2 separate regions of the Homo sapiens genome follow, and region 2 is linked to region 1. A link means that fine-mapping ties the variant in region 1 to the expression of a gene that starts in the linked region. Tissue or cell type: whole blood. Region 1 holds a variant in brackets; the other region holds the start of a gene. Each region is shown on its reference strand, or each on the opposite one. Region 1 overlaps C3orf20 (chromosome 3 open reading frame 20). Region 2 holds the start of MTCP1 (mature T cell proliferation 1).

Evidence for each region.
Region 2: it holds the start of MTCP1, and the variant in region 1 is fine-mapped to the expression of MTCP1 in whole blood (TOPMed, PIP above 0.99).

The regions. Positions count from the first base shown.
Region 1 is chr3:14,769,263-14,786,407 of GRCh38, reverse strand. It overlaps C3orf20 (chromosome 3 open reading frame 20), which reads right to left. Exons shown (of 17, transcript NM_032137.5): 16 at 14,207-14,341; 17 at 13,372-13,617. The coding sequence ends at 13,533. Among named protein-coding and RNA genes, the nearest start is that of LINC02011, 34 kb to the left of the region's middle. The variant C/T (reference allele first, on the strand shown) is at 9,094.
Region 2 is chrX:155,059,808-155,075,054 of GRCh38, reverse strand. MTCP1 (mature T cell proliferation 1) reads left to right here and starts at 3,919. Exons shown (of 5, transcript NM_001018025.4): 1 at 3,919-4,361; 2 at 8,998-9,149; 3 at 9,266-9,436; 4 at 9,518-9,569; 5 at 9,656-11,021. The coding sequence starts at 9,045. The coding sequence ends at 9,565. CMC4 (C-X9-C motif containing 4) reads left to right here and starts at 3,919. Exons shown (of 3, transcript NM_001018024.3): 1 at 3,919-4,361; 2 at 11,022-11,089; 3 at 13,064-13,433. The coding sequence starts at 11,032. The coding sequence ends at 13,212. It overlaps BRCC3 (BRCA1/BRCA2-containing complex subunit 3), which reads right to left and starts at 3,547. Exons shown (of 11, transcript NM_001018055.3): 1 at 3,405-3,547; 2 at 2,712-2,728; 3 at 1,624-1,678. The coding sequence starts at 3,527. FUNDC2 (FUN14 domain containing 2) reads right to left here. Exons shown (of 5, transcript NM_023934.4): 5 at 14,751-15,247. RefSeq lists enhancers at 2,564-3,285, 3,242-3,291, 3,302-3,521, 3,286-4,007, 3,992-4,291 and a silencer at 3,632-3,951.

The DNA.
Region 1 (17,145 bases):
CCATTTTTTAATTGGGGCGTTTGTCACGTCCACTTTTATTAAACCACCTTCTGTGTGATATACACCTACTGTGTGCTGGGCACTGTGTCATAGTCACATTGCATCCTCGCCAATATGCTGAAAGGTAGATGTTAGTGTCCCCATGATACAGATGAGGAAACTGGGGCTGACAGAGAGAAAGTGACTTATCCAAGATTGCCCTGCTTTATAGGGCAGGACTAGAACCTGAAAGCTTGCATGTGCATCAGAGAGACTGACAGTGCCCAACTGAACAAAACCAGGTAGCAATAGGCCCCAAGAGGGAAATAAAATAGGTGACCTGCTGGCAGGAGTCTGGGGGATGGAAATGGACAACACTAGCAGGGAGGGCAGGGGCCCCTCTGAGGAGCTGAGACTGACTGATGGTAAGTTGCTGACCATGTGGAGATCCAGCAAACAAGCCTTCGGGGCAGTGGGAGTGGCCATGCCAAGGCCCTGAGGTTGGGGTGGATCTCGGCATGCCCGAAGGACAGAAAGAAGGACACCATGATGGAGAGGGAAGGCTGAGGGGTGGAGTGGAGAGCGGAGGCAGGAAGGTGGGCTCGTGTATATTTTGGTTGCACAGAGAGCAGCCGGGGCTCACCAGCCCAGTGAGGATGGCTAAGGGCTGCCCGGCAGCTGTGGGGCATGGAGTCCCGGATCAGATCCTGCTCCACCACAGATGGGCTGAGAGGTCACGGACAAGGCTTTTCCCCACTCCCAGCTTCCGTTTCCCATTTGAAAATGGACTGCTGGGCATGGGAGGCACCGAGGTGGGCATCACATGAGGCAAAGCCAGGTCAGCTCGGCGCCTGCTCCATGTAGGTGGAAGACAAGCATGGTGATTTCCTCACCTGTACAATCAGGGAGGGGTGGGCTCTGCCTTCCATTTCACCATCAAACGGCCAAGTCCTGGTGTGTAGTAGCTGCTCATTAAAAAACAGCTGACTGAATGACCAGCAACGAGTAAGGATTCCTGTAAAGATACTTGTGTGAGGGAGCAGCGAGGAAAGCCAGCGGGTGGTGTCCACTGTAGAGGGCTGTGCACAGGCAGATCAGCCTCTGGGAACTCTCACTTTTCCGTTTCCTCTCGGGCCCCTCCCTTTTAATTTGCTAAGAACAACCTCCCTGCCCAAGGCTGTACCCTGAATTCTTGCCATAAACCGGTTCTGTACCCAATCCTCAAATCCAGTGGCTTTCAAGCTTTCCTGACCACTTTCTTGAGGAAGAAATACGTTTTGCACAGTGAAGACAAAAGAAAGAACCCACTCCCGGCGTTTGCATGTTCCCTGAGCTCCACTCCTGAACCACTCCTTAACTTCTCACAATAACCCATGTCATGCTGTTTTCCCCCCATGGGCAGATGAGGAAACTGAGGCCTGGAGAGTTAACACACCTGGGGTCATGTGGCTGGACAGGTGGGCTCCAGGGCTTGCATTTTTTGTTTTGCTTTTTTGAGGCAGAGTCTTGCTCCGTCGTGCAGGCTGGAGTGCAGTGGCGTGATCTTGGCTCATTGCAATCTCCGCCTCCCAGGTTCAAGTGATTTTCCCACCTCAGCCTCCCAAGTAGCTGGGATTACAGGTGTGAGCCACCGCACCTGGCCTGGGGCTTGCATTTTTAACCACTATACTCATGGGTGACTGAAATAAAGCCTGTGCTTTATTATATGCAAGGCGTATTTTCTATCCCAGCTGTCTCTTTCAAAATGCGCATCACAACCCACTCCATGGATTTTGCAATTCACTACTGGGTCACAAGCTGCAGTTGGAAACATCCTGTCCAGACCCAGGGGAGGATACGCTGAGATGCAGAATACCAAGGGCATACCAACTGGGCACCTCCTACCTCCTGCTCCCCACCTCCCAGAGCCAGGACCCCTCCCTGTTGTCCTTCCCTCCAACCCCACAGGGCCAGCAGCCGAAACAACCCACTCTCTTTCTCATATGTGAGCTGACAGCTTCGGGGCAGTTCACGTGTCCCCAGCAGCCCCTAAACCTAGGGAAGGGAGAAAGAGGCAGGAGGGGAAGGCCCACCCAATCTCCTTCCTGGAAGGGGAAAGTCATTATGATGCAGCTGGCAGGAGCTGGCTGGGCTTTTATTTCCCAAGGCCTGAGCTGGGGGCCAGAGGAGATTGCTCACAGATAGGGAGATGCTGCTGCTGGGGCTGATGCTTTATTCCTGCTCCTGCTCCTGCTCCTTGGCCCGCAGCCAAGCCACTTAACCCTTGAGGGAGCTGCAGACTGGAAGCAGCCCGCAGTGGGGTGGGCCCTGCTGGAGTGCAGGCTGGCATTACGGAAGGCAGGGGGAGCGCCTTAATCATTTTATTAATAGTTATTCTCACTTATGTTTAGTAAGCATGAGCTAAATCCTTTCTCTGTATTATCATATTTAACCCACCCAATATCCCTGGGAAGTTGCTTATTGGGATCATCCCATTTTATAGATAAGGAAGTGGCAGTCCAGAGACCAAAGTTGCTTGCCCATAGCCTCAAGGCCAGAGTGGGGGGCAGTGCAGGGAGAAAGAGGTGTTGTTAATATTTATTGAAGGGGTAAATATTTGAGGGTTCTGGGTGGGGGTGTTGGGGGTTTCAGCAACCTGCAGCCACGTATCTATTCTGGATCTTTGTGGCCTAGGAGGACATCCCAGGCCCTCTGCAGAGGGGCCCCATCCTCTCAGGCACACTGTCTTTTTCCTGCCTCAGTCCATTCCTGGCACCTAATGCCACTGTTTTTTATCCATCATCTGTGTGTTTTGAGACCTTGTGTTGCTGTGCCTGCAGCCTGGCCTGCTGCTTTTCACTATGAGAAACCAGCTTTATAGGTTGCACTTGCATCTGGCATCTTGCTGAATCTATGTCAGTTCTAACAGTTTGTCTATTGACTCTGTTGGTTTTTCTAGGTAGATGATTAAATTATCTTCAATACTGACAATTTTATCTTTTGCTCTTACATCCTTGTACCTGTTTCAATTTCTTTCTGTAGAGTGTTGAAGAGCTCTAATATATTTTGGACAGTGGTGTTGAAGTAGTATCCTTGTCTTTTTACAGGGAAGATTAAAACATTTAAAGTGTTTCCATTGCTGGGCACGGCAGCTCATGCCTGTAATCCTAGCACTTTGGGAGGCCGAGGCGGGTGGATCACCTGAGGTGAGGAGTTCGAGACCAGTCCGGCCAACATGATGAAACCTTGTCACTACTAAAAATACAAAAATTAGTCGGGCATGGTGGCAGGCGCCTGTAATCCTAACTACTTGGGAGGCTGAGGCAGGAGAATTGCTTGAACCCGGGAGGCAGAGGTTGCGGTGAGCCAAGACTGCTCCATTGCACTCCAGCCTGGGCAACAAGAGTGAAACTCCATCTCAAAAAAAAAAATAAATAATAATAATATAATAAAATAAAGTGTCTCCATTAAGAAAAATATTTGTTGTGGGTTTTTCTTATATAAACTTCACTAGGTTAAGAAAGTGACCTTCTATTTCCAGCTTGCTAGGCTTTACCTAATAAATTTTATTCACCAGTCGAGATAGAATTTGATTTTTCTTATTTAGTCTATTAATATAGCGAATTATATTGATTTATTTTCTGACATTGAACTGTCTTGGCATTGCTAGGATAAACCTTACCTGACATAATGTATTATTTAAAAAAATAAATATACCATCGGATTCAGTTAGCTAATCTTTTATTTAGAATGTTTGTACCTACATTCATCAGTGAAATAAGCAATGAGATTTTCATCTTCTCTTCTTTGTATTGACCTTATCTGATTTTGAGGTACACTAGGCTCAGAAACCACCCAATTGCCCATCTACAGTAGAATGGAAAAATATATTGTGGTATAACTGTACAGTGAAATTCTATAAACCAATGCGATTGAATGAACTTCAATCACATACAACAAGGATGGATTTCATAAACATAATGAATATAAAAGAACCCAGACACAAAAGAGTGCACAGTATGTGATGCCATTTGAATAAAATGTAAAAACAGGCAAAACTAACCTATGGCGGAGGCAGGTGATGATTTGCTCTGGATTCTAGTCATGTGCTGTGTTCGTCTATTCTTGCACTGCTATAAAGAAATACCTGAGACTGGGTAATTTATGAAGGAAAGAGGTTTAATTGGCTCATGTTTCTACAGGCTGTACAAGCATGGGGCCAGCATCTGCTCAGTTTCTGGGGAGGCCTCAGGAAGCTCTTATTCATGGCAGAAGGCGAAGGGGGACCAGGCACTTTGCATGGTGAAAGCAGGAGCAAGAGAGAGTGGGTGGGGAGGTACCATGCTTTACAAAAACCAGATCTCACGAGAACTCACTGTCTTGAGAACAAGATTAAGCTATGAGGGATCCCCCACCATGACCCAAACACCTCCCACCAGTCCCCACCTCCAACACTGGGGATTACAATTCAACATAAGATTTAGGCAGGGACAAATATCCAAACTATATCATAGGGGTATGTTTACCTTGACAAATTCATTCAGATGGAGCTTAAACACTGTTTACTTTTCTATATTTACATTGTACTTTGACAAAACTTACATAGAGCTTTATAAAATAAAATTTGCTATTTTTAGGAACAGCTTATAAAACACACACATAAACAGTTTTTTGTTTTTTTTTTGAAACATGGTCTGGCTCTGTCTTCCAGGCTGGAGTGCAGTGGTGTGATCTCAGCTCACTGCAACCTCTGCCTCCCAGGCTCAAGCCATCCTCTCTGCTCAGCCTCTGGAGTAGTTGGGACTACAGGCTACCATGCCCAGTTAATTTCTGTATATTTTGCAGAGACAGGGTTTCACCATGTTGGCCAGGCTGGTCTTGAACTCCTGAGCTCAAGTGATCCACCTGCCTCGGCCTCCCAAAGTGCTGGGATTACAGGCGTGAGCCACATGAGCTATTTTAAACTCACCTGTAAAACCATATGGACCTGGGTTTTGGGATGTGCGTGTGTGCACGTGCACACGCATAAGACTGACTGCCGTTTCCATTTATTTACAATTCCAGGTTTTTTCCAGTTTTTGATTTCTTTTTGCAACAATACTGGTGTTTTTTTAAGAAACATATCCATTTTACATTAGGGAGGTAATTGATATACCAATCAAACCCAAAAATATCAGTGGCTTAACACAATGAAGTTTATTTCCCGCTCTTGACATTGTCCGTCGTGGGCTGGGGAAGGGCTCTGAGAGCCAGAACTCTCCCATCTTGTGGGAGCATTAAGAGCTCAGAGTCCTCCACTGGCGCTTCTGTATCCAGCATTCTTCCCTGCGGACAGCATGGGGGCGCTGCGGGGTTAGCTTTTACAGGCTGGGCCTGGAGGTGGTGAACTTAACTGCCACCCACATTTCATTAGCCAGAACTTAGGCACCTGGCTGCAGATGAATCCATGGGAGAATGGGAAGTGTAACAGGGCTGTGTGCCCAGAAGGAAGGGAAATCATTTGGGAATACACGGCAGGCTTTGCCCCAGGTTTCATCTAGGTTTTCACATTTATTGTTGTCTGATTGTTCATAATAATATTTTTAAAAAGATCTTTATTTCTCTTTTTTTCCCAAGCTGTTATATATCTTTCTGGGGGTCCACTTATTAATTCATTTAAAGGACTAGTTTTAGGGTTTGGTCATCTTCACCATTTCATTAACGTCTGCATGTCTTTCTTATTTTTAGCCTTTTTTGGCTAAAAAAATAGCCAAGTAATAATAATAAATGTACTTAAAGCTCTACATTTTCTTCCAAATACTGTTTTAGCTGTGTGCCACAAATTCTGACATTGTAGCATTTTCATTATCATTCAATTCTAAATATTTCTGAATTTCCTTTAGGATTTCAATTTTAACCAAAGACCTAGAGTGTTAAGACATTTTTGTTATTTGTCTCTAACTTCATTGCATCCTACTTGGATAATATAATCTGTAAATTCCTCTGGATTGAATGAGGCTTCCTTTATGATCTAATATATGGTATATCTTTTACAAAGTTCCACAGGCGTCAAAAAAGAATGTGGGTTCTCTATATTTTAGGTAGATTCACATACACGCAGTCAAGCTCACTGATAGCATTATACAGAACTTTGATATCTCTGCTTATTTTTTGTCTGCTTTATTAATTTCTGGGAATGGTATTTTTAAATATTCACTTCATTAGCTGGATGCAGTGGTGTGTGCCTATAGTCCTACCTACTCAGGAGGCTGAGGTGGGAGGATAACCTAAGCCCGGGAGTTCAAGACCAGCCTGGGTGATATAGTAAGACCCCGTCTCTTAAAAAAAAAAATAAGAAAATTCATTTTAAGTTGGTTTTATGTTTTTTTTTTTCTTGATGTATTTTGAAACTGCATACATCCTGGTGCATTTTCATTCTTGTTCTATTGTTTCTCTTACCCCTATATAACATCTTTCTCTATCCTCTATATTTTTGGTTTAAATTATATTTTGTCAGATATTAGGATTGCTATCCTAGCTTTTTAGGTTCATATTTGCCTGGTATATATTTCTAGTCCTTTATCTTCAATATTTATGTGTCTTTCTATTTTGACTGTCTCAAGTAGACAACATAGAGTCAGATCTTGTATTTTTAAACCTAATCTGAGAATCCCTACATTTTAAACATTTTAACAGCTTTATTGAGATATAATTCACATACCACACAGTTCACCCATTTAAAATGTAAAATTCAGTGATTTTTAGTATATTTACAAAGTTGTGCAACCATCACCACTAATTTTAGAATATTTTCACAATTCCAAAAGAAATTCTATATCCATTAAAAATCACTCCCTGTTTCTCCTGCCCTCCAGTCCTAGGCAACTACTACTCTAGTTTCTGATTTTATAAATTTGCCTATTCTGTATATTTCATGTAAATAGAATCATATAATATGTGGTCTTTTGTGACTGTTTTCTTTGACTTAGCATAATATTTTCAAGGTTCACCCATGTTGTAAAATGAATCAAAATTGTATTCTTTTTACTGCTGAGTAACATTCTACTTTACGGATATACCATAATTTATTCATCTATTCATCAACTGATGGACATTTGAGTTGTTTCCCCTTTATGGCTATTGTGAATAATGCTTCAGTGAACATTCATGTACAAGTTTTTGTATATGAAAGTCTCTATTTTTTGATTGGCAAGTTTAACCCATTTACATTTATTATACTAACCTTATATTGAGACTTGTTTTTGGTATTACTTTTTTACTTTTTTTTTTTTTCCTCTTCACTTGTTTCCCTTGGACAAACAGAGTATTCCCGAGCAGTCAAAAAGTTATACATTCTATTTTGGTCTTATGGTGGGTGCCATTAAGACCAATTTTATACCTGCTTATTCCTATTGATGCTTATGCTTATCAGTGTCTACTTTTCCCCTAAACAAGCTAAATACTTTTTCACACTGCTATGTCTCTTTAGTATCTCTACTCCTACCCCTACAGTTTAGAGTACTTTGCCTATAACTCTTTAAAGATATTACATTCTTCTCACTTCTAGCATTGCTATGAAAAATCTGATGTCAGCTTGACCCTTGTTTCTTTGTAGGTGGTCTGCTTCTCTCTGGTATCTTTTAGAGATTTTTTTTTCTCAGATTTCACTGTAATATGTCCATGTGTAGGTTTTTCCTTAACTCTTCTGTTTGGCACTCTGATTAATTTTACCCTGAAGTCTTTCATTTTTCATAATTATGGCATATTATCTCCATTATTTTTTCAAATAATAGTTCCTTCTCTACATTTTTATTTTTTTTTACCCTCCAGGACCCTTATCATCTGGGTTTTGGTACTTTATTTTTTCTCCACATCTTTCAGTGTTATATATATCTGAGCTGTGGGTTTTGCTCTGTTACCCAGGCCAGAGTGCATTGGTGTGATTACAGCTCACTGCAGCCTTGACCTCCCAGGCTTAAGCAATCCTCCCACCTCAGCCTCCCGAGTAGCTGGGACCACAGGCACACCACCACACCTGGCTAATTTTTAAATTTTTTGTAGAGACAGGGTCTCACTCTGTTTCCCAGGCTTGTTTTTATATTTTATACATAGTTAACCTTTCCTGATTCTGGGAGAGTTCTATAGTATAGTCTTCTAATCTATTAACTGGCTCTTCAGCTTTTGTCTTATATGTATGATGTTCCTCATCAGCTGCTCTGCTTATGTGTTTTGGGGAAGAATGACAAGCCAAGCCCCAATCTATGTCAGAGCTGGTAAACGAATGAGCCCCTTTACCCCAAAACCTTTGTTCCTCACTCAGATTTATTGTCACTCCACTAGGCAAATTCCCTGGCTAGAGTATGACCTTAAAAATCCCTGGGGGAAGCAGCACCCACCATCAGAGGGGGCCTCTCACGGCCTTGTAATCAGTAGTTTGGAGGGGAAAAGATGGAGCATTTATTTATTTATTTATTGAGATGGAGTTTCACTCTTGTTGCCCAGGCTGGAGTGTAGTGGCGCGATCTTGGCTCACTGCAACCTCCGCCTCCCAGGTTCAAGCGATTCTCCCGCCTCAGCCTCCTGAGTAGCTGGGATTACAGGCGCCCGCCACCACACCTGGCTAAGTTTTTTGTATTTTTAGTTGAGTCAGGGTTTTAGCATGTTGGCCAGGCTGGTCTTGAACTCCTGACCTCAGGTGAATCACCTGCCTAGGCCTCCCAAAGTACTGGGATTACAGGCGTGAGCCACCACATCTGGCCAAGATGGAGCTTTTAAATGGTCAAAGGCACCTGGGAGTTATCATCTGCTTTCGTCAACACCTTAATGGCAAAGCCTTTGCTGTCCTTCAGTATTAACCCCTGCATCTGCACCAGTGGCCTGGGCTGCTGCTGTTGCTGCAGTAAAGAGGCAGGTAAAGACCGCCCCAAGGCTCTGCTGAGGAAAGGCAGGGCAGAGCTGGGGAAGATTTCATACAGCTCTCTTCCACTGCACCCATCTCCTGTCCTCCTCAGGCTGCAGCCACCCACATTTTCCCCTGCAACCAAACCAGTTTTAGACACATTTAGTCTTCCAGGTTTTTCTTAAAGGGTTTAGTTCCTGGTGTCCACACTTGCTTCACAGTTTCTCTGGGGCAGGGAAGGAGCCAGCAGTTCATGT[C/T]GGCTTGCCAGGTGGGTGAAAACCAGGCTGCCTTTGGTGGGTGTTTATATCTTGCAGAACAGACATCCTGCTGGTTCTAGCTCTGGCCCTATTCATCTTTGGACCTAGGGGTTCTTGGGGAAATTTCTGACTATGGTTTTTGGGATTCAGCCTAAAAATCCCATCTTATTTCAACAGAAGATTGCTGAAACCTGCCTGTGATTTCACTTTCCCAGTTTCAGGCCTTGGGACAGACATGCAGAGGTGAGGGACAGTGACTGAGCCTCTCTCAGGCTTTGGGTGCAGGCTGAGCCAGCCCAAGCCCTCCAACCACTCCTCACAGAATGGGTCTGCCACCTGCTCCTCACCCTGGGCCTTCGCACTGCTCTTATAAGAAGTGTGACTAATAAGAAACCATCAAATGCTCTTCCAAAGTACTTTTACCATTTTGCACTCCCACCAGCAATGTATGGGAGTTCTAGCTGCTGCACATACTTTCCAGTACTTGGCATTTTCAGTTCAAAAAAAATTTTTTTAGCCATTCTAATAGGTTTCTAGTAGTATCTCATTTGTGGTTTTAATTTGCATTTCCTTAAAGACTGATGACATTGGACATCTTGTCATTTTTTTTTAACCATCTATATATCTACTTTTGCAAAATGTATGTTCAAATATTTAGTCCTTTAAAAAAAATACAGGGTTTTCTTCCTGAGTCGTAAGAGGTCTTTATTCCAGAAATTTGTATTTTTCTCCCAGTTTGTGGTACACCGTTATATTTTCTTAAAGTGTTTTTGGAAGAGAAGTTTTTAAGGTGAAGTCCAGTCCATTTTATTTTTCTTTTCTTTTTTTCTTACTGTCCTAGGAAATCTTTGTTTTAAAATCACAAATATTTCCTTATGTTTTCCTCTAGAATTGTTGTAATTTTAGCTCTTAAGTACAGGTCTATGATCCATTTTGAATTAATTATTGTGAGTGGTATGAAGTAAAGATTGATTTAATTTTTCCCAAACAACTGTCTGGTTGTTCCAGCACCATTCCTTGAAAAGACCACCTTGTCACTTACGCTGATGAGACAAGTGCTTACCACCTGGTTTCCCCTCCTTCCTCTTGTGTTTCAGCCCCTGAAGATTTTTCCTATGACCTTGTGAGTTCCCATATGTAATTAAAGGGGTATTTAATTTATGTTATCCAGTATTTCTAGCGTTTTCTAACAAGATGGTGTTTTCAGGCCATTTAGTGCGCAGTGTTGCTGGAGACAGAAGCCTCGCCCTTGTTTCCCTCCTCTAGGTCCTGGATGCACCTCCACAGGGAGGGGTGGGAGGAGACCTTGCCCGCTGCTGCCGTGTGCTGACTGTACCGCCATCCTTCCTCTGGGCTTCAGTCTCCTTTTTTATAAAGTGAGGGTGAGGTGGGAGATCAGCAGGACTTGTCTTCCAAGCCTTGGTCACTGCCCTGCTGATGGAAGCATAGTGTAACAAGAACAACAAAAAAGCCGGCCCAAACCAGCTAGGACCATGATGGTGATGAAAGCAACCTCTAGTTGCCCTTGTTGCTCATTATATGCTAATTATAATACATTTGCATAGGCCACTCACAAGTGCCACGATAGTTTATGAATGATGCCATAGCAACACCCTGAACGTTACCTTACATGGTTCCTGGAACTCCCCGCCCCTTTTCCAGAAAGTTCACAAATATCCCACCCCTTATTTAGCATATAATTAAGAGTGGGTATAAACTAGCCCTGCTCTGTCTATGGAGCAGCCATTTTGCTGTAGCTGTTGCTGTAATAAACTTGCTTTCTTTCACTGTGGGCTGCCTCCTAAGCAAAGCCAAAAACTTTCATGAGTTGAGCCCCAATTTGGGGGTTCACCTGCAGATCAAGGGGTCAGACACCATGATTCCTGGGTTTCCTCCTTGCCCTAGTTTTCCTGGACGCCGAGTCTATTCATGGGTAGTCTTGCCCTCTCCTGGGCCTTCCACTGGGTCAGCCTGAACAAGAAAGGATTCTCAGTAATAAGGGGAGACCCTGCTCCCATTTCCCAGAGGCCATGGGCTGCTGACCATTCCATGTCTCCCTGACAGGCTGATAACCTGGGAGGTGAGTAATGGGATGCCGCCTACTCAGACACAGGTCACACACAGCAATGCCTCCTAACAAAACCCGCCCTGTAGGTTTTAGCTCTAGCTGCACCCTCTCTTCCTCCGAGGAGTCTTCCTAAAAACTGAGTCTTGGCTAGAGGAAAGAGCTACTCCGTGGATGGAAGAGACGGGAAGGTAGTTGGTAGGGGCTGCCTGCAAAGACTGGGGGTGAGGCAGCAGCAGATGTGCCAGGGTTTGCCCTAGAGCATCCATGTGCATCGGGCCACAGCTTTTTCCTTAGAGAGGCTTGGACCTCCCTATAGCCAAAACGACAACAGAAGGAAGCCTGAAGAGTCCAAAAACAGTTTATGGCTCAGTTCTCAGTTGATCGAGCACCTTTCCATCGTGCCTGGTTTGTTGGGGGCATCTTTGAGGGGTGAAGCCTTATCCTGCTCTCCTGGGGTTTCCATGGAGAGGGGCTTCCCCTTTTCTCCCTCCTCCCTAAGGTACATTTGATTCTGCAGCCCTGGACATTCGCTGGGCCTGTTCCACCAGTGGGAGGCGTCCCGCTCACGAGCAGCTCATTTTTGCCCCTTTCAGTGTGGTGAGCCCCGTGGGCAGGGCCAGGACCTGCCCTTCAGAGACAGGTCTGTGTGCACAGTGCTCGCGGCTGTTGACATGCGCATGCAGACTGCTTGGCATACCCACGCAAGCACTCCTGAGCACACGGCCCACAAGGCAGGTCTAGGGTGGCAGGGCAGAGGCTTTGTTTCAGGCCCTTGCCTGAGCCGAGGTCTCCATTCCGGCCTTTACCAAGGTCTTGCCTTAGGGGCTGGAAGGTGCCTGCCTGCAAGGACAGAGGTGGAACTTTCTTTCCCTTGCCTTCCAATCCTTGTCTGTCCTTGTGCTCAGGAGGGGAGGAGGGGAGAGTGGATAGAGCCCCTGGGACCCATGATAAACATCAAGGTCCTTAAATATCAAAGATACAAGCTTACGAATATCGCAAGCCATTTCAAATTCATTTCTAGAAGAACAAGTGTATAATTCAAAAAACATTTTTGAATGATACAAAGGATAAACATTAAAGCTTGAAAAATTCAGATTAAAAAAGCTTATATTACAGAGGAAGCATAAGCATTTCTAAGTGCAACATCTCACTAAATGCTGCCTGCAGCTCAAGGCCTGAGCTCTGCTCTGGGCTGGGAGAAAAAGGTAGACCTTCTGGAGTCCTCAGCTGCTCCTGGAAAGGGCTCCGGTGAACCCAGACAAGACAGCCCAGTGTCGTGGGCCCAGCGCAGGGGTTAGGACGAGACAGCCCAGAGCCGTGGGCCCAGAGCAGGGGTTATCTCTGTCCCTCACAGGCACCCTCAGGGACATGGGGAAACTTAGCACCCCAGAGGGACTACTGTCTTGGGCCCCTTGATGCTGGCAAGGATTTCTAAGGCCTGTGGCTCAGGAAAGAAGCCCGAAATGCACCAAATGGCACTGTGGCTGGGCTCAGTGGGGATGTCTGCCCCCAGGAGGCCACAGGGCTCTGGCTTTCAGGGCATCACTGAAGGGTCCCTAGGGGTGAGCACTCTGTCATTAAGTCTCCCAGCCTGCACCATTCTCATCTTCCTCAGATCCCCCCTCAGTGATTTCTTCCCCATCACCCTCTTAACTCCCTCCTCACTCCACACTTGCTTCTTCCTGCCCCTCCCTCCTTACTTGTTCCCCTCCTCCCTCCCCTCCTTCCTTACTTGTTCCCCTCCCCCTCCCTCCTTGTTTATTCCTCCTACTTTTCCTCTCTCCTTCTCCCTCCTCCATCTTCTTTCTTACCCCCTCCCCTCCCCCCTCACTTTTTTCTTCCTCTCTCTCCTTGCTCCTCCTCTCATTTCTCCCTTTGTCTCTTCTTCCCTGCCTTTGGCCTTTCTCTCTGCCTCTTCACTGTTCTCTTCTTGCTGTCTTTCCCACCTACACCATAGACTGAGCCTCCCTCACCCAGGAAGGGTATAGGAGGCCCAGTTCAGTCCCATCTGGGCATCCTGGGGGTTACTGGGTCACCTATCCTCGCGCTACCTCTTGGAGGTAGCTTCCTTCCTTGAGTGTGGGAGGGCCTCAGCTGACTTAACTGGCCGCAGAGGAAGTTCTGCATCGGGGGAACCGAGTTTCCAAGGACGTGACCTGGGACAAGTCTGCTGGGGGCCTCTAGCCTCACAGAAGACAGAATGAGCTGGGTCTGTCCTTCCCCAGAGCCTCACCCCAATGCTGGAGGCCCGCTGGTTTATTATAGAAGCTTGGAGGACAGGGTGGGAGACCGGGGAGGCAGGGCTGGGCTGGCAAGAAGCCCCAGCACCCCGGGCCGGGGCCTGGCTCACTTGGCTGCTGCCAGGATGGCGCTACTTCTTGGAGGCCTGCTTCTTCCAACTAGTTATCTTGCTGTCCCTGCTGAGAGGATGTAGCTCCACTTCAGGCTCTCTTGTCCTAAAGATCAAAATAGAGGGCCGGGAGGCGGAAGGGCTGTTCTTCACAGTGCCCAGAGCCCAGGCCCGGTTGGGCCAGGAGGGGCAAGGCCCTCTCCCTTGCACAGGTGAGGCTGTTGGGTGCTGTTCCAACCAGAGGGCCCCGGTGGCACCTGCGACCTTTCTACATGCTCCTAATTTTGCTTTTCTATCTTCATGAGAAATATGTGATTTCCACGCCATGCCGAATGTGTGATTCATTTCATGGTTACCAGCACCAGCAAGTAAGTGGCCTTTAACAGGTGCAGCAAGTTTCTTGCAAGGAGACAGCGGGGCAGTCTCCACCCTTCTCAGACTAATGGGTCTGGGCTGTGGGGTTCTGCTGCAAAGTCTACAAAAGGCCTCCATCTCTACCACCCAGACCACTGCGAGCAGCTCCAGGGCAGCCTGCATGCCCGCCCAATATTGTGTTGATTACATGGGCTAGATGTCAGCGATGGTTGGACATGACCCAGGCCACGCCTGGGGGTAGTGACTTGCCCAAGGCCAAATAGCCCCGAGGTGGCCTGCTGTGAGCCACGCCCATTCTGGCAGCTGATGTGGTCACCTACTTCTCAGCCTCCAGAGATAACTCCTTCTCCACATAGTCTTCCAGGGCCAATGAGGAGCTGCTTCCTTGGATATCTTCTGACTCGGCTTTCTTGACTGATTCAGAATCCTCCAGGCTCAGGACAGAGTTGGGAACACTGCAGGGGAGGCAGGGTCGGGGGCAGTGCTCAGGGCCCAGGGTGCACTGCACGCTGTCCCATCAGTGTTCTGGGAGCCTGGACAGACAAGGACACAAGTGCTTCTCCTCCTGAGGGCAGCGAAGGGAGACTCTGACCTCCTTGGGGACCCAGTGACATGCTGGAGGTTGGCTTCCCTGGCTTCTATTTTGGGCTGGATTAGCCCTAACCCAAATGCTGCTACACTCGCACCCCCAACACTGACCATAGCAAATGCCTGCGGTGGGGCGGGAGGGCTCCGTAAGTGACCACAGGAGAGATGACAGGGGGCAAAGGAAATGTGTCATCATGTGTGGTATTGTGGGCTGAACACATGTCCCCCAAATACATATGTAGAAGTCCTAAACCCCAAGACCCCGGAACGTGGCCTTATTTGGAAATAGGGTCGCTGCAGACATCATTAGTTAAGATGAGGCCATACTGGAGGAGGGTGGGTCCAATCCAACATAACTGGTGTTCCTCTACAAAGGGGAAATTTGGGAGAATGCCATGTGAGGACTGCAGTTCTGTGGCCATAGGCCAAGGAGCTACCAGGAACAGGGAGCAAGGCCTGGGACTGAGCCTCCCTAGCAGCTTCTGGAAGAGCGTGGCCCTGCCCACAACTTGGTCCAAGCTTCTGGCATCCAGAACTGTGAGAGGATGAATTTCTGTTGTTTCAGCCACTCAGTTTGGGTCACCTTTGTGTCTTAGGCTGTTCGAGCAGCTATTACAAAATACCATAGGCTGGGTGGCTGTGAAACAACAGAGGTTCCTCTCCATTCTGGAGGCTGGGAAGCCCGTCATCAAGGAACCTGCAGATTCAGTGCCTGGTGAGGACCTGCTGCATCACAGATGGCTGTGTTCTCATAACTTCACACAGGGAAAGGGGCGAGGGTCCTTCTGGAGCCTTTTATAAGGGCACTAATCCCATTCATGAGGGTTCCATCCCATGAATCACCTCCCCAAGGCTCTGCCTCCTAAACCATTGCCTTGGAGGTGAGGATTTCAACACATGAACTTTGGGGGGCACACTTTCAGACCACAGCCCCTTGTTACAGCAGCTCCAGCCAACACAAACGTGGCTATTCCTTACCTCTGTGCCACACCTCACAGCTTTGCAGCCATTCATTGTCAGTGTTTCTGAGTTACGGGATGTTTCTGAGATTCACAGCAGCCCTGGGAAGCAGGCAACTCTGGGACATTTGTCCCATTTTCCTGACAAGGGCCCCGAAGTCCAGAGAGGTGAGTGGGCTTATTCACGGGCACATAGTAAGTCAATGGCAGAGACAGGACTGGCCCATGTATGCACTGTCTAGTCACTCGGTCATATTTACTGAGCCTCTACTATGCGTCCGGCCCTGAGGAGTTTACAACCTGGTGGGGGTCATGGGTAGCAGTATCTGGTGCTGAAGAAAGGGGCATGGCTTGGGGAGGGGGCTTGAGGTAGCTCTGGGAGTATGTGGCTAAGGCTGGGCTGGGGACAGGAAGTGGGTGTGGAGGGACTGTCCAGGCAGGGGCCATCCTACAAGGCCTAGAGCAAGAAACAGTGTTTACGGGCTGTCTAAATCTGTTTTGTTTGTATAGATCAAGCAAGGGAATCACAGGTGACTTGCTTAAGGCCAGGGCCTTTCAGAGACAAGAGGAGACACAGCCTACTCCGTCATTTCAAGGGCCCTAGAAAAACTAAACACCAAGAAATGCCGAGACCGGGCCTCAGAATCTGGGTGTATGCACAACGTTTACATGTGGCAAATTAACGCCTCTTTGCAGCCCCTTACCTCCAATCCGGCCTCACAAGGAGCACACACACTAAACTAAGCTGACCCTTTAAACGCCTCTCTTAGAGGCCTGCCTGAGGCCCTTTGAGAAGAGGTGGACTGTGGAAGTGTCTGGGCCTATGGTCCAGTCCCTGCCATTCTCAGGGGGCAGGGTGGAGGGCAGGAGACGCAGGGTAGGCTGATGGGCTCCTCCAGGGCCCCCCTAGAGCCCCAGCCCAGGGTGGATGTGGAGGAGGTCCCAGCAACTCTGTTTGGTGTTGAGTGCTTGAGGAGTGCAGGGGAAAAGGCTCGGAAAGAAGCATGGTCCCCCTCACCTGGACATTTCATTCTTTCTTTCATTCATTCCCAGAGCACCTCCTCCCTGAGCTCAGCTCTAGGACTAAATACCTATAGAAGGCCCTGAGTTCACAGCCAGCCCCTCCGTCCCAGCAGTTGGGAAATGTCCCCACCCTGGGTACTGGCCTCCTCCCTGTTCTCCCTGTCTCCAGCCTCACCCTCTTCCATCCAGTGCCCCTACCCCGCGCCCCACCAGAGGGCTGGTCCTCCTTGATCTGGCCTTGTCTCTCCCACTTAAAGCCAGTGTGTGGTTCCCTGATGCTTGCAGGGGTAAGCTCCAGCCCCCACGGCATGACGCCTGCTTCAGGGTCTGTCAGAATCTGCTGATCCAACTAGAGACCCAGTCTCCTCACCCTGTGCCCTCCCCACTCCCCTGCCTACCCCTCCTGCCTCCACCTAGTCTCTTCCTGCCTCTTCTGAGGTGGGCAAGGGGCAGGGGTGCTACCAAGTGGCGCAGCTGTAAAGAGCTTCCCCTCCCATCTGGATAGCATGTTACAGATACATGGCCCAAACTATCAGCATGTTTTTCTAACAGCCTGTCTTGGTGGCTCCCCTAAATCCACAGCCCTCCTGCTCACAGGTTCCTGCGGTGCACTGAGCCCTTGCCTGCCCCAGCCCCTCCTGAGTGCCTTTTCCCTCTCCTCCTTTGCTGGGCCTTCTTCTTATCCTTCA
Region 2 (15,247 bases), not on the chromosome of region 1:
TTAACTAAAATACACCCTTCAAATTAATTTCATTTATTCCTTTTTACTGTGATTACTAAAAAATTTAAAATTATGTATATGGATCACATTCGTGGCTCACATGATATTTCTTTTTTTGTGGTTTATTTTTGTTTTGTTTTTCAACTGAATACTCCACTTAAAAAGATTATCACACTGGATTTTTTAAAAAGTATTTACCACTAATAAGAGACACAAGAGACACATTTTAAATATTAGTATACAGAAAGGCTAAAAATAAAAGGATAAAAAATACACTATGCAACACTAAAAAGGCAGCTTAACTAATAAAGTTTAATATCTAATTTAGACAGTACAAACTGACATAAAACTCAAGACGAGGGCATGAAATCTTGAATAATAAAATTACATTATTAAGATTGGAATGTATCTTAGTAACTGATGCCCAGGGTGAATTGTTTCTTTCTCTCTTTCTTGCTTTAGTCAGAGATTTCAGTGCCTAAGAGGAATGAGTAATATTTAATGCATAGACAGAGGAGGAAGAGGAGTCCACAAAGGATTGTGGGAAGGGGGAAACAGGAATAAAGGCAATACAACAAAACCAACAAAAACTCATGAGAGTTTAGAGATTCAAGGAGAAAGATGAAGATAAGCACCAGGAAATAATCCACCGAAGGTAGAATTAGAAACCAGACCTCAGTGGGTTTGACTGGGGAAGGTGAAGGAGTAGTAATTGTAGCCCATTCTTTTAAGAAGTCTGGCTATTAAAGGAAGGATATAAGAGTACTGACTACAGGAAGATACGGGATTAAGAAGTAGCTTTCCTTTCTGAAAATGAGAGTAATTTAAGCATATGTTTATCCTAAAAGAACCAGGTGACAGGGAGAAGACCCAGAAAAGAGACAGAACATTTGATAAACAAGGTCTCTGAAGAAGCTGCAGCTTTGGATAGGAAGAGGACTTATTTCTTTGATATGGGAAGAGATGCAAAGTGATTAAGGTGGAGAAGTTTGTAACTAGTAGTAATAAGTAGATGAAGGTGTGGCCTGATAACTTGGTGGGAGGAGGGGAAGTAATTCATTTTTTTTGTATTTTACAAAAGCATCGGTCTGTGACAGACTGGGGGAAACGTTAACTGGTCCGATACCACGATTAGGTGAGAAGCATTACACTAGACCATCAAGGCTAGAGCATGCCACAAAAGATGGTGTAGGAGTGCAGATAGGAAAAAAGTCAAGGCAGACTAAGAACTATGATGCTATGGTCAGTTTGCCTGTTTAAGAAGAGAGGGCTGCATGAGTAGATGTTGGAATTCGAGATAAAGAGGTAATAGTGATGTGAAAGTATCAAGGATGCCAAAGTATCAAGGAAAGTGGGAGAAGGGCCAGAAAACAGGCAGTGACAGCAAGGAGAGCAGCAAGAGGGTGGTACTGACAGTGATTATTAATCTTGATCAAGTAGAGACAATTTGCTACAAAGAACAGAAAATTAGGTCCCATTCCTAGTGAGTAGATTCTTCATCTGATTTTACTAGAAAGAATATCTCATCCAGCCAGAAACCGCATACTCTGGCTGAGATCACTGGATTACAGAAATCTTTCCCCAACTGCAAGTTTCCATCATGCAAAATTTTAGCACACATACCTTTTCAGCAACTGTGCGCATTTCAGTTCCAGTATATGCAAATTTGGAGTCACTCCTACTGGGAATAAATTAGAAAAAAAAAAAGGAAGTGGGGTTTGGAATATAAAAAGGAATTAAAGCAAAATAACAGGATTAACTGTTTTTGCAATGAAATCTTAGCAGAGACCAAAGAAGAGGAGGGAAACTGAATTGAGGCTAGAGCTGCACTCTATCTGTTAGAAGCAATCTGGGACACATGCACAAGTGGCTGAGTGTATAAAGTTATAATGGACAAAGCTAAATTCCTGGAATCCTGGGAACTAAGGAGGTGGGCTTGAGAAGTATACTATGGTATGATTTGAAGTTTAAATTAAAATGTTACCGAAAGGTTTCACCACGTCAAGTATTGAAGCTACTGGGGATCTCTGAGATCACTGAGGTCCATCAGGAGGAAAGGCAATGTCACTGTCAATTTACGTGAAGGAATGGATCAATGGGGAAATGCCTCTAAACGTATATGCTCTCTGTCACTAAGAAAATTACTGATATCTCACTGGCATTTAAGGGGAGACAGAACATGAAATACACTGAGCAAGGCCAGGTGTGGTGGCTCACGCCTGAAATTCCAGCACTTGGGGAGGTCGAGGTGGGCAGACTGCTTGAGCCAGGAGTTCGAGACCAGCCTGGCCAACATGGTGAAACCCCGTCTGTACAAAAAAAAAAGACAGCCGGGTGTGGTGGCGGGCACCTGTAATCTCAGCTATTCGGGAGTCTGAAGTATGAGAATCGCTTGAACCTGGGAGGCGGAGGTTGCAGTGAGCAGAGATCGCGCCACTGCACTCCAGCCTGGGCGACAGAGTGAGGCTCTGTCTCACCCCTAAAACGCAACAATTATGATAATGCTTATTAAGATGTTTATCCCATATCTCAACTGAATAGGAGGTAAGGCAGAAACCAAAGTTCAAGGTTGTATCATTAAGGGAGCCCCGGAGTGATAATGGTAATTAATTTAAGACACGATCCGGACACAATACTGCCAAAGTCGCCATAATTTTAGGTTAACAATGACTTAGAGATTATAAGATATGAGTAAACAAATACAGTCTTACCTTGTATCATCGTTCAACTAGAGTGGGAAAAAGCAAAAAACATTATTGATCACATTACGTTTGTTTGACATATATGGATGCAGATTATATGACAATTAGGTCATGTGTTCACGCACATGGTATGAAAGACTGGAGAATTACTTTAGACTGTAAACAGCTAAACTGTATTTCCTCATCCTCTTCGGCCCCTCCTCAACACAATGCAGCGGAAACTTTTGCTTCCTTCAAGCCCCGCACCTTCTGTTAGGCTCTTCGATACCCTTCAAATGCTTTGGTTGATATCTCTGCTCCCTAGACAGAAGACTCGAGGCGAGGCAAGGGGCTCTAACTGTGGTCAGCTGCTGCGTCGTAATACCCGGACATCCTCATTATACTCCAGTGTCTTTCTGACCTGCCTTGCAGTTTTGGTCAACCGGGCGAAAAGCGCAGATCTAAAGAGAAGCCCCAGGCTACAGGAGAAAGGGCAAGGCTCCCGGGGCCTGTACAGACCGCCGGGGGCTCGCAGGAGACTAAACAAGTGTCAGGCGGCCAGAAGAAACGGGGCTCCCCGCGACAGAGCTATGTAAAGGGTGTCCAAGGACCTAAATCGAGGATGCCTGTGGCCTCCGCAGCCCTGGGAGCTGCCGGCACCCACCCCGGGGACACACTGGGACTGCTCAGCAGGGTTCCATCCAGGCTAACAGACCTACTCACCTCCCCTATGCACAGCCCCATTACTTCCTCCTTCTCTGTGCTCAGAGCGTGGTTGAGACAAACGAGGAAAGCGTCAGACTCGAGATGAACCGCCTGCACCGCCTGCACCACCTGCACCGCCATCTTGGCCCGACCCTTCTCACGTCCGCCTCGGGCCCACTTGGTCCTGACCAACCGGGTGCTGCGGCGCAGCCTCCCCAGCGCCCAGCGCTGTGCGCTCCGCCCAGGCCTGGCCTTCGGCGCGCGGGTTCCTAGGGGGCGGGGCTTAGGGAGCGGGCGGGGCTGTGGGGGCGGGGCTGTGGGGGCGAGGAGGGGGCAGCGGGCGCGCGGCTGGCGCGCGGGGGCGGGCCTTGGGGCACGGGGGCGGGGCCCGCCCAGCAGCACCTGGGAAACGCCCGCGCGGTTTGGGGCAGGCGTGGCCGTCGGGGCGGAGGGCGGTGGCCGGCCGCGGTCCGGGCGTCAGGCCGGGCGGCGGGGGCGGCAGGGAGGCGGCGCTCTGGGGCCGCAGGCGGACGTACTCTGTGAGCGGCGCCCGGGCGCCTGGGCAGGCGCCTCCCGAGTACCGGCGCCCATTTTGCCCGCCCGCTAAGGAGACCCGTGCGCGGCCTACACGCTTGGGGGACAGCCCTTTAAGACGACATCTCCGCGAACGCCGGCCTCTTGAGCCAGGGGGACGCTCTTTTGAAAGTCAGTCCCAAAACAGTTAAGGTTTTATTTTATTTTGTTTTATTTCCAAGTCACAGCCCCCGAATCTCGTACAACTCTCCCTGGACCACTTCCGGTTGCCGGCCCGCGCCTCATAACTTCGGTTCGAGTGACCTCGGCCCGGGATGCCCCTCGGCTCACCCCGGGCTCACGTCGCGATCCTGGCTTGAGTGGCCCAGGGTGGGAGACCTGGAAGTTTTAGCCTAGCTGTTCTCAAGGCGGATTAATTAGCCCAAGAAACATTATATTCATGTGAGTAACCTTTTGCAGAAACAGTGTTATACTGTATCTGAAAAAGTATCACTCTTAAGCTTGGCTGCTGCTACTTTCTACAAAGGCTTTTAGGTAGCTATTTGTTGGATACAGGGAAGGGGAAATGGAGAACTTCAGTTTTTATTCAAGTTCGGATGTATCACATTAGGTATCCAGAATGCAAGTTTCCTCGGGTCTCCTTGTCTCGATGATATCAGACAGTAAAAATATATGTAAAAGTAATTTTTATTTCGAGGTATGTCAAACGTGCCAAGGATAAAAGTACAGATCTTCCAACTCACAAGTCTAGGAATCACACGTGGATTTTGAAAGCGATTCTAAATCAAAGCACAATATATGCCGTGCCGCCTCCACAGCCCGTCCGTGTTCGTGTCTTTGATTTGGTTTTCTACTTTGTGTAGTTTTGAAGCCAGGCAGGTATGGCAGTACTGGAAAGGGAACATTCCCAAGGTGCTACTTGAAGTGTTGATGCTTTGCTCTTTTCTCCCAAGTCAGTTCCAACCCAAGTCTCCCCACACATAGGGTCCCCATCCAGTGCAACGATCTGTAATGTGCACGCCAGCAGCCTCCGTTTTTACCTAACGATCTGTAAGGATCACATGGCACATCTTTCTATAATTAATTTGATCATGATGAAGGTTGGAAAATTTTCGTGTGCAGTTACATTGGACCTGTCTAAATTTTCTCTTGTTTCAATTTTATATCATATGTTATTTTCAGTTACTGTTTGTGGCTAGTATGCCCCGTCCTCATGGAGCAGGAACGGCTGTTCTTATTATTATGACATTAACATTTGGTGATGGGATATAGTGCCTTTAGGCACTTTCAAGAAGAAAAATACCTTTTGTTTGTTATCGGCGGTAGTCAATCTCATATTCCAGAATGAGGTTCACTAACTTTTCTAATGCTCATGGCTGCCTTTTACAGCTCCAGGCATTTAACTGGAGTAGAACAAAATTATTAACATTTATGGCAAGCTTATTATATGCTAGATACTAAGCATTTATATGCCTGGTACATGTAAACTGCCCCATTTGGAGTCAAGCTCAACAACTTCCCCACTGTGTGACCTTGAGCAAGTTACCTAACTTCTCTGTGCCTTTCTTTTCCTCACCTTTAAGTGGGGATGATAATAATTCTGCCCACCTCATAGCGCCCTATGAAGATTGTGAAAATTAAATGAGTCAATATATGTAAACATATAGGAAATGCTAAATAAAGACTATCATGATTAATATGTTCTTTAATTCTCATTTTACACCTCAGGAAACTGAGGTGGAGAGACGTTAACTTGTCCAAGGTCACAAAGCTAGTAAGTGACAGACTCAGGACTCATACACAGGCCTGGGCCTGTGTTCTTGGTAATTTCACTCATTGTAATTGGACGAGTTTATTAATTGACTTCTAATAAAATAAGTGTATTCAACTGATCAATGTTTAAAAACTGTTCATCAACCTGGCAATTAAAGCAAACTATACTTTTTTAAAAAAGACACAAAAGAATTTATTCTGTAAAGGAAAAATGATAGTTTTACTTAGATTACTACCTAAGGAAGCCCTTCTATCTTATATGTCATCCATTTAAAACCTAATTTACAAAATGCCTTACTAAGAAATTGTCTGTCTTGGCCAGTGTGCTCTCTGGCCCCGAAATCAAGGTGACCCTCATGGGGACAATCTCTTCTAGTGGATGATAAAGTTATGCAGTTATCTAAACATTTTTGGAATTCATTTGTATTTGTAGCTGGCAGTATTCCTTGAGTTGAGTTGCACAAGTTTATATTCCATGTATTGTATTGCACCTTGTACCTAAGTCTATGTTGAGGTTTTAAAAGATTCGTCTTAGTTCGAGAAGTCCTGAATTTTGTAAACAAGTATCATGTGCAAATAAAATGTTCTCTAGTCAAATAAATTTGGGAAATGTTAACATAAAGTTTCTTTACTGCATAACTTGCCAGAACAGTTACTACACTAATGTGCTTTATGACTCTCCAAGATTCCCAAACTTATTTGACCAAGGAAAATGTTGGGAGCAAGTTTTCTAAGAATCACATTTTTCCACTCATAAAACCTGTGATTGTATAGGCTTTGATCTGAATCCCTCTCCCTCAGCCTTTGCATTTCTCTGCTGAGGACTTTGTTCATGCTCATATGGTGACTTCTCTGTCCCTTGATCACTGCAGTTGTCTTTCTCTGGGCCTGCATGCCCTCTGAATGCTAGCACACACAATTCCAGGATACTGTGCTGAGAGGTGGTTCCCAAGCTCATCCCGCTGATGCCCAGCATGTTGACCTTTGGGTCACAGCAGCACATCACACTGCCTTTCTTCTGAGAATATTTTGTAGTGACTCATAGGCCTCTTTGTAGTGACTCAGTAACTCAGACCATCATCTCCAAACTCTTTGCCCTCTATTCCACTGGCATTATTTCCTTTTAATGTCAATATAACCAATGCAATTTTGTTTTCCATTCAAAACAAATTTAAATGTCAACATGTTGGTTGTTGCTAGGACCTATCTATGAAATTGAGATGGTCCTGAAACCCTTAACACATGGTTTCCACTTTTTTAAAACAGTTATTGGCCACACTTAAGTCTTCTGTGCTTGAAATCCGAATTTAATATATTTTATTTTGACATTAGTATTTACCAGGTTTTTATTTGTATTTCTCTTTTCCAAAGCTCTGGGAAGGAAGAGAGGCAAAACAACTGTATCTGCAAATGGGAAAAAAGGGGGGCTTTGGAAAAAAATTATATATAGCCAGAGGCTTATGCCTAGAGAATCAATCTCTACCCACGTATACATAGCCAATCATGACAACCACTGTGGCGTTCCTTTGTTTCCCTTCCCTACCCACCATACATATACACCTGTTCACTGAAACATTGCTTGACCAGTACCTGAGACTTGGGGTGCCCAGAACTGTATCATTCCTGCTATTGAGCAGAATACAATACTGTGCTTTAGGGAAGACAGGACTTGTGAAATAAGCAAAGCAAATGTGTAAGGTGACTTTGTTTAAATATAAATGCTACAGTAGTCAAAAGAGGCAAGAATTTTCTAAAGTTTTCATAGAGGAGGCAGGCACCTGGACTCTGCTATAATAGCACTAAGATAGGCAGAGAGGCCCAGGGAGGCATTTTAGGCAAGTGGAAAACAAGAGCAAGGGTATGGAGCTAGAAATGAGCCTGGTATTTGGGGAAAGTTGGTCTCAACTGCAGTGGTAGTTGTAGTGCCTGCTGGAATTGGTGACATATAGGATGTAGCAACTGAATAAGAGGAAGAAATCCAAGATAATTCATAAGTTTTGAGTCTGCAGGATCAGGAATGGTGGTGTTGCCATTGAGAGAAATCAGGATTTGGTTAAAGAGAAAGTTTAGACGAGTTTGAAATGAGAGAGCACATATGTATGAAAACTAAGACAGGAGCTTACACCAGGCTCAGAGTCAGATGCACTCAGGGTATAATGGGTGAAGCATCTGGTTGCTCTCGACAGTCTCACTTTGAGGACTCTAACAACCACCCTCCCACGCTGCATTTCTTTTCCCACCTAATGAGAATAGCAGGTCTTTGTTTTGAGGGGCAGCTCCCCAGTGCCGTATCTATACTCTGGCCAAAGGTAGAAATACAGTACAACTGCGCTATAATGCTCTGAGTAAGGTCTAGAAGATTGACTCATGCAAAATGCACATCAAGTTATTGTGAGGTCCTGAAATGATATCTGGGGCTTGGGCAGAGGATCGTTATAGAGTTTGCCCTACCACTCAAATGCTTTGGGAGGTATGCTTCCTTTACACCTCTCAAATGTGCTTCTGGTCTTCTGGCTTAGGAAGTCAAAATTTAAACCTAGTCCTCTATGGAAAAATGGGCTCCTGTAACATCCTGCAGAATTATTAAAATAAAACAAGGACCTAGATGGATAACTTTCATTTGCACTCACTCAGCTCCAAATCAGCATGATCCCCAAAGTCTCTTGCAGCTCAGAAATTCCATGAAGCTAGCTTACTTTTCCTAACAAGAAAATCCCCTTCTAGAAATGCCCATCCGCTATTTGTAAACTTTCTTAGTAAACTGATAAATAGATCATTTGCCCTTAAAACAAACTTTTAATTTCAACTCTGAAAGACATGCATATATGTCCTTCAGAATCTTACCTTTTAAAATGGAAACTGCTTGGAAGTGGCTTTTACCTGGGGAATATGACATGCATGTGTCTGTTATACTGCCTTCCTGCCAAAATAAGTGTGTCTTTAGGCACGCTCTTTGCATATTCTATTGCTAACTACATTTTGCCAGACACTGCTTGTGAATGCAGTATGTGTGAGACCACTGCCCAGCTTCCTGTAGTGCTAGTCCTACATTTCCACAGAACTCCTCACCTAGCCAAATTCTTGAGCGCTTTGCAGTCAGCAGCACTACCTGAGGCTCTGCCTGAGTGTCACTTTAGTTGTCTTGCAGAAAGCTTCAGATGTCCTTGGTTCTATTTAGGTTGTGCAAATAGACATATGAGGTTTGGTTCTGGTTAGTGGTTGCTAGTACCAGATCACCTTGCTTACTGGTGAGTTCATTCAAACCCAAAAAGTCACACCTGTGTCCTGTGCGCGGGTGCTGCAGGCTTAGGTGGAGAAAAGCAGGGCTAGAATTGGAACCCAAAGCCCAGAATGGCAGGAGAGGATGTGGGGGCTCCACCCGATCACCTCTGGGTTCACCAAGAGGGTATCTACCGCGACGAATACCAGCGCACGTGGGTGGCCGTCGTGGAAGAGGTAACTGTTTACATTTTGCTTATTTCTTTGATTTTGCTTTCAAGTAACTTGGTTTCTATTCCAGTCTCAATATTCTGAAGTCTTTGGTTTTATTTTTGATCATTCCTTTCCATTAGGAGACGAGTTTCCTAAGGGCACGAGTCCAGCAAATTCAGGTTCCCTTAGGTGACGCAGCTAGGCCAAGTCACCTTCTTACCTCCCAGCTACCTCTCATGTGGCAACTCTACCCGGAGGAGCGCTACATGGATAACAACTCTCGCTTGTGGCAGATACAGCATCATTTAATGGTACACATGTTGCTTAATTATTTTCCATTGTACTGGGACTCTCGTAACAGAGTACTCCATAAACTTTTCTTTTTCTGACAGGTCAGGGGAGTACAGGAGCTGTTGCTTAAGCTTTTGCCTGATGACTAACCTGGTATGTATTTCTATTTCTCCTCTGTCCTCCCCCTCTTTGTTTTGGCTCTATTCAGTTGTGGTGATTTTAATGATTTTTTTTTCCAGGTGCTGGGATTCTACGAAGATATGCTCCTTTGTTCTGTTCAGTATTTGGCAATCACTTCATCCACTACTGCAGTGCACCCACCCTTGGGCCTGGGGGGAGGGAGTGGGTTGAAAAACTGCTCAAGAAACAGAAGTTTAGCAAGGGTCATGAAGAATACTGCAAGTGAAACTGCAGAGAGAGGTTACGTAGGCAGAAAGCAAGTCAACAAAAGCACTTAGTCAGGATCCGTAACTTGAAATTGACTCCTTTGGAAATTGCCATAGAACCCTTAATGGACATCATCGGCTGGACCTGGGATCTGATGAATCCCACAAAAGTCAGCACCTTCTACAGAACAGATGCCCTGATCACCAAGGACTTGGTACTGATTTAGAGAGAAGAGAGCAGCTCCTAGCAGCATCAACATCTATTTGTCGCTTATTTGCCCTGCAGCAATTCACCTGCCTTTCCTTCTCCCATCCTGTAAATATCCTAGGTTTTGCTCCAGTGTTTCCCATCCCAGTACTGACCTAATTTGGATCTGCTGAGTATTTAGAGGGCTCTGAAAAGAGATATGCATTGATGAAATTAGCTACAAAGGCTTGTGGGCCTTTTTTTCTATCTGAAATCGTGTCTTCAAATTACTGGAAGTTGCTGATCAAAATTGTGGGCTCTTGAATTCATTCTCTGATTACAGATATTTTAAATAAGCTGGTTTCTATAAGAACTTCAAGAAAAACCATTTTAGCTGCTTAACTGGCACCTTTCTCAGGAAGTAATAACACCAAATATTGCTGATTCCTAGGAAAACATTTACTACTTGTAAAGAATTTCCTGAGTTAAAGTAGTTATAACAGTTTATATACATTAAAAGTAAGGTTTTACTTTAAAAAAAAAAGTCTTGGGAATAATAGCTACCATGTATTGGAGTCCTTTCCAGGCACTATTGTATGTACTTTATATACTTTATCACATTTAATCCTCCTGTCAATGCTTTGAGGTAGGTATGATTCCCATTTTATATATGAGTAATAAAAAAAGCTCAAGGAGTTTAATCATTTATCAAGGGTTTCTTCTGCGAATGATAGAGCCAGGCTGCGCCGTCGGCTCCTCTAGCCTAACGTTGGTTTACAGTATTCAAAAAGAGTTGATTGAATTCAAGGTTTTTTTTCCATGTAAAGCTATTTATATCTTCCAAGCCTAATGAAATGGATATTATAAAAATACAGTTGATTCATCCTATGTTTGGGAAGAGTATTTTTAGTGTAATTATTTTCCAGCAATTGTAAGGGCATATACTGCTTGTCTCAGAAGAAAATTCCACGTAGAGGGGCTTTAAAGTCTTTATGGAAAAAAGAAAAATAAAAATCATTTTTCTTGTTTTAGTTTTCTGGATATGCCGCAGAAGGATCCGTGCCAGAAGCAAGCCTGTGAGATACAGAAATGTTTACAAGGTAGTATATTGTAAAATGCTTTAAAAATATTTTTCCACTGTGAACTAACTATAAGAGACCAATTATTCTTTTATCTGTATTAACTCTTTTTTAAGAATGTAACGTATATGTAATTATCCTGAAGATTCTCTTCATTGTATCATCAAAGATGCAGAAAATAAAAAGTAATGTGATCAAAGCTAGGGGTTTTCACTCCAGGTGATTAGCATCACCTGGAGATCTTTAAACACTTACCTAGAACAATTCAGACTTCCTAGGGCTAGGGCTAGGAAAAAAAGGGTTTTTTGTTGTTGTTGTTTGTTTTTACTAAAAGGCTAGTTTTAAATTGGTTGGTTATACTTCACTGCAGCTGACAATTCACTTTTTAAAAGCAATCTGGAAGAGGTGCGGTTGAAATAACAATTGGAATTCAGGCTGCCAAAGTCATCAACTAACTCTTAAAGGCAGAAGTGAATCTCGACTAAAGCATATTTGAGGTGATTTGTCCATTTGTCCAGCTGCTAAGTTTGACCAAATGTTAGAGGATTTTAGTTTTCTAATCAGTGAATGACTGTTGCCAGAAGAGCAAATAGAAAAAGCTATAAGGCTATCTGAATTTGAAAAAATTTTAATAAGTTTTCCTCACTAGTAAAGTAATAGATGGAGATGGAAGGTCATGAAAATATAGAAAGGTATGAAGGAAAAATGTTCAGAGTTCCCCCAAAGATTCACCACCAAAGAAATCCTTTGTTTGTGTATCTCCTTGGACTTTTAGCTTTCATTCTTGGACTTTTCATTTTTTGATGTTAGCAATATTTTATAAAATCTTTTAGATTAAAATCTGGATGTATAATAATGCCATTTTAGTCAAACTTCTTCCCTCCAACTTTAAGGAAAAGGAAAAAGTTTTTTGCATTTAATTCCTTCTCCCAAATAAAACCTTACCTTGTTTGAAATAACCCATAGCTAAGGGAAAAAAATAAGTTAAAAAGAGCTGGTGACACCCCCTTGGCAGTGTGGGAGGATTAAGAACTGGAAAGACTAAAAGATGACAAGCACCGTTATAAGGACTTTATACGTATTAAGCCTTTCATCCATGAGGTAGATGCTACTATGACCCCCATTTCATAAAGGGGAAAACAGACACACAAGTTATGTAATTTGACTAGGGTCACATAGCTAGTAAGAGGTATGGTGGGAATTTGAACACCCCCCGCCAACCCCGCCCTTGGTCTAGCTCCAAATCTGGACTGTTACCCACCTTGCTATACTGCCTTTCTAATCAGAATTGTCTTTCCTATCCTGAGCTAACTACCATGTACTCCATTTTAGTACTGGGGGACTCATTAACTGCAGCTGACCTAGAGTCTTTAGGTCAGGTCCTCCTTAACTTAGTGTTTATGTATAGTAGGGATCTGCAAATGTTTTATGAAAAAGGCCAAACAAGTAATATTTTAGGCTTTGGAGGCCAAAGGCCTTTGTTGTATATATTGTGTATGTGTTGTGTGTTTACAACCCTTTAAAAATTAAAATCCATTTTTAGCTCCCAGCTGTAAAAACCGGCTGAATTTGACCCTAAGGCTGCAGTTTGCCAATTCCTGATGCACAGCCTTAGTAGGGGAGGTCCAACAATCAGCTTAAACTGTATGCAAAATAATGTGTGGTGTATGTGCATTTTCCTAATTCATCAAATTAGTGACCAGTAATAAAAATGATGTTAAAAACCAATGTCCTAGAAAAAGGTGCATACATGCTATTAACCTTAAAGGAAATTATATATTAAAATAGCTTTCAACCACTTTGTAAATCATACTTTCCCTAACGAACCTGTCGACAGGTCTCTAAATTAGAAAGAATTCAGTGGACTTTGGTATATCTTCTTTCTTCCAGTTCCATAGGTACTGAAAGTGAAAAGGGGTGGGAAGCACTGATCTAAACCTCCCTGTACCTTAGTCCTATGAGATCATGACTAGAGTCTGCCTGTATGTTTTTCAGCCAACAGCTACATGGAATCAAAGTGTCAGGCTGTCATCCAAGAACTGCGTAAGTGTTGTGCTCAGTATCCCAAGGGAAGATCTGTCGTCTGTTCAGGATTTGAAAAAGAAGAGGAAGAAAACCTAACACGGAAGTCTGCATCAAAGTAAAGTTCTTCTGAAGTGCTGCTCCATGTTTCCACCAAATGAATTTTTTTTATCCTCCTGACTCTTCAGGCCAGGTAGCAGCAAATAGCAAATGAAAAAGTCAGCTACAAAAGTTAATGAATATGCCATCTATGCAGAACAGGCAGAAATATAAACACATTAAAAGACAAATATGTAGAATGTAATATACTGAGCTGCTAAAATAAACCTGTTTAAGAGAAAAATTTGGGTTTTGTACTAAATGTATTTTAAGACTATTAGATATAGGGTATTAATGAATTCTCTTGAAGTTCAAGCCACTAGTGCCATTCATCAAATTTAAGTCATATGAGGTATGTTAGGTGAAAGGACTCACTTCCAGCATCACAATTTTGACGCCCTTTTTTTTTTTTTTTTTTTTTTTTTTGAGATGGAGTCTCACTCTGTCATCCAGGCTACAGTGCAATGGTGCGATCTCGGCCCACCGCAACCTCTGCCTGCCGGGTTCAAGCAATTCTGCCTCAGCCTCCCAAGTAGCTGGGATTATAGGCATGCACCACCACGCCTGGCTAATTTTTGTGTTCTTAGTAGACGGGGTTTCACCATGTTGGTCAGGCTGGTCTTGAACTCCTGACCTCGTGATCTGCCCGCCTCGGCCTCCCAAAGTGCTGGGATTACAGGCGTGAGCCAATTTTGATACCTTTTATAGATTACATGCTAAACTAATTCAAAGTTTCCTTTAAACTAACTCATTACCTTTTGTACTTCCAAAAATGCAGAGCAAAAAGTGTCTTTCCAGATGCCAGTAAGAGCATTTCTTTCTGCTTTTGCATCCCCACTGCAGCGACTAACCAGGTAGGAAAGGCATAGAAATGATTCTTGTAATGCTTAATGATCCTTAATTTATCATGAAGGAACTGAAGAAAAAATTTTCATTGGAAGTCAGGTAGGCAGCAAGATAATTCAAACTTAGTTGGTTTATCTATTCTTTATATCCTGATAATAAAAACCTGTTACAGAGGATCCAGACAACATTAATACAAAGCTGCTGAATGAAGCCTGTTGACAGCTGTCAGTCACTTTATGAAGTAGGAGGAGGCAGCATGCAACAGGCCATTTGCTTTCCTCAAATGGATGCTTGAACCACCAAAGGCTGTCCTCTAAAAAAGAAAAAGATGACTAAAAGCAGGAACAATTTCTGCTAGGTCCCTGATGTTAAAATACCATGATTATTTGAGACCAACTGTTTTCTTTAAAGCAGCATTACTCAAAGTGTTTCTAGGAATTGCTGTAACCGGAAGAAAAAAAAAAGGCTTCTCTGGTCAGGTAAGTTTGGGGAATGCTAGGTTGCATACAAGTACACAGGTTAATTTCCTGTCAGACTTCAGAGCTTTCAAAAAACCTAAGTGAACCTGTTTTGCAGACAGCATCTCTGTGTGTGAATGCTCTCCAGAGCGACTTAAAGAAATGCTGCCTTAGAGACGTTTGGTCCACAAACCAGAGTGACAGAGCTAAATCCCCATGAAATTTAAATGACGTCTTGTGTTAATAATAACACAATAAAACATCATACAACTTTAATGTTACACCATCTACAAATCTAAATTACATTTAAAATTATCAGTTGACAGTTGTACTAGGATTTACATTAGGAATCACTACATGATCAAATAGATTGTTTTTCTGTGTTTTATTGCCAAGTTATTTTTACTGAGTTAACTACTCCAGTTTCAGACTCTTTTAAATGTTTTTATGCTAAAGTATATGTATTAGTCCATTGTTGCATTGCTATAAAAAGTGCCTGAGACTCGGTAATTTATAAATAAAAGAGGTTTAGTTGGCTCACAGTTCCATGGGCTGTACAGGAAGCATGGCACTGGTATCTGATGGGCTTCTGGGGACGCCTCAGGAAACTTACAGCCATGGCAGAAAGCAAAAGGGGAGTGAGCACTCCACATGGCCAAAGCAGGAGCAAGAGAGAGTGAGGGGTGAAGTGCCAGATCTCATGAGAACTCACTATCATGAGTGAAGTACCAAGAGGGGATGGCCCCCACGATCC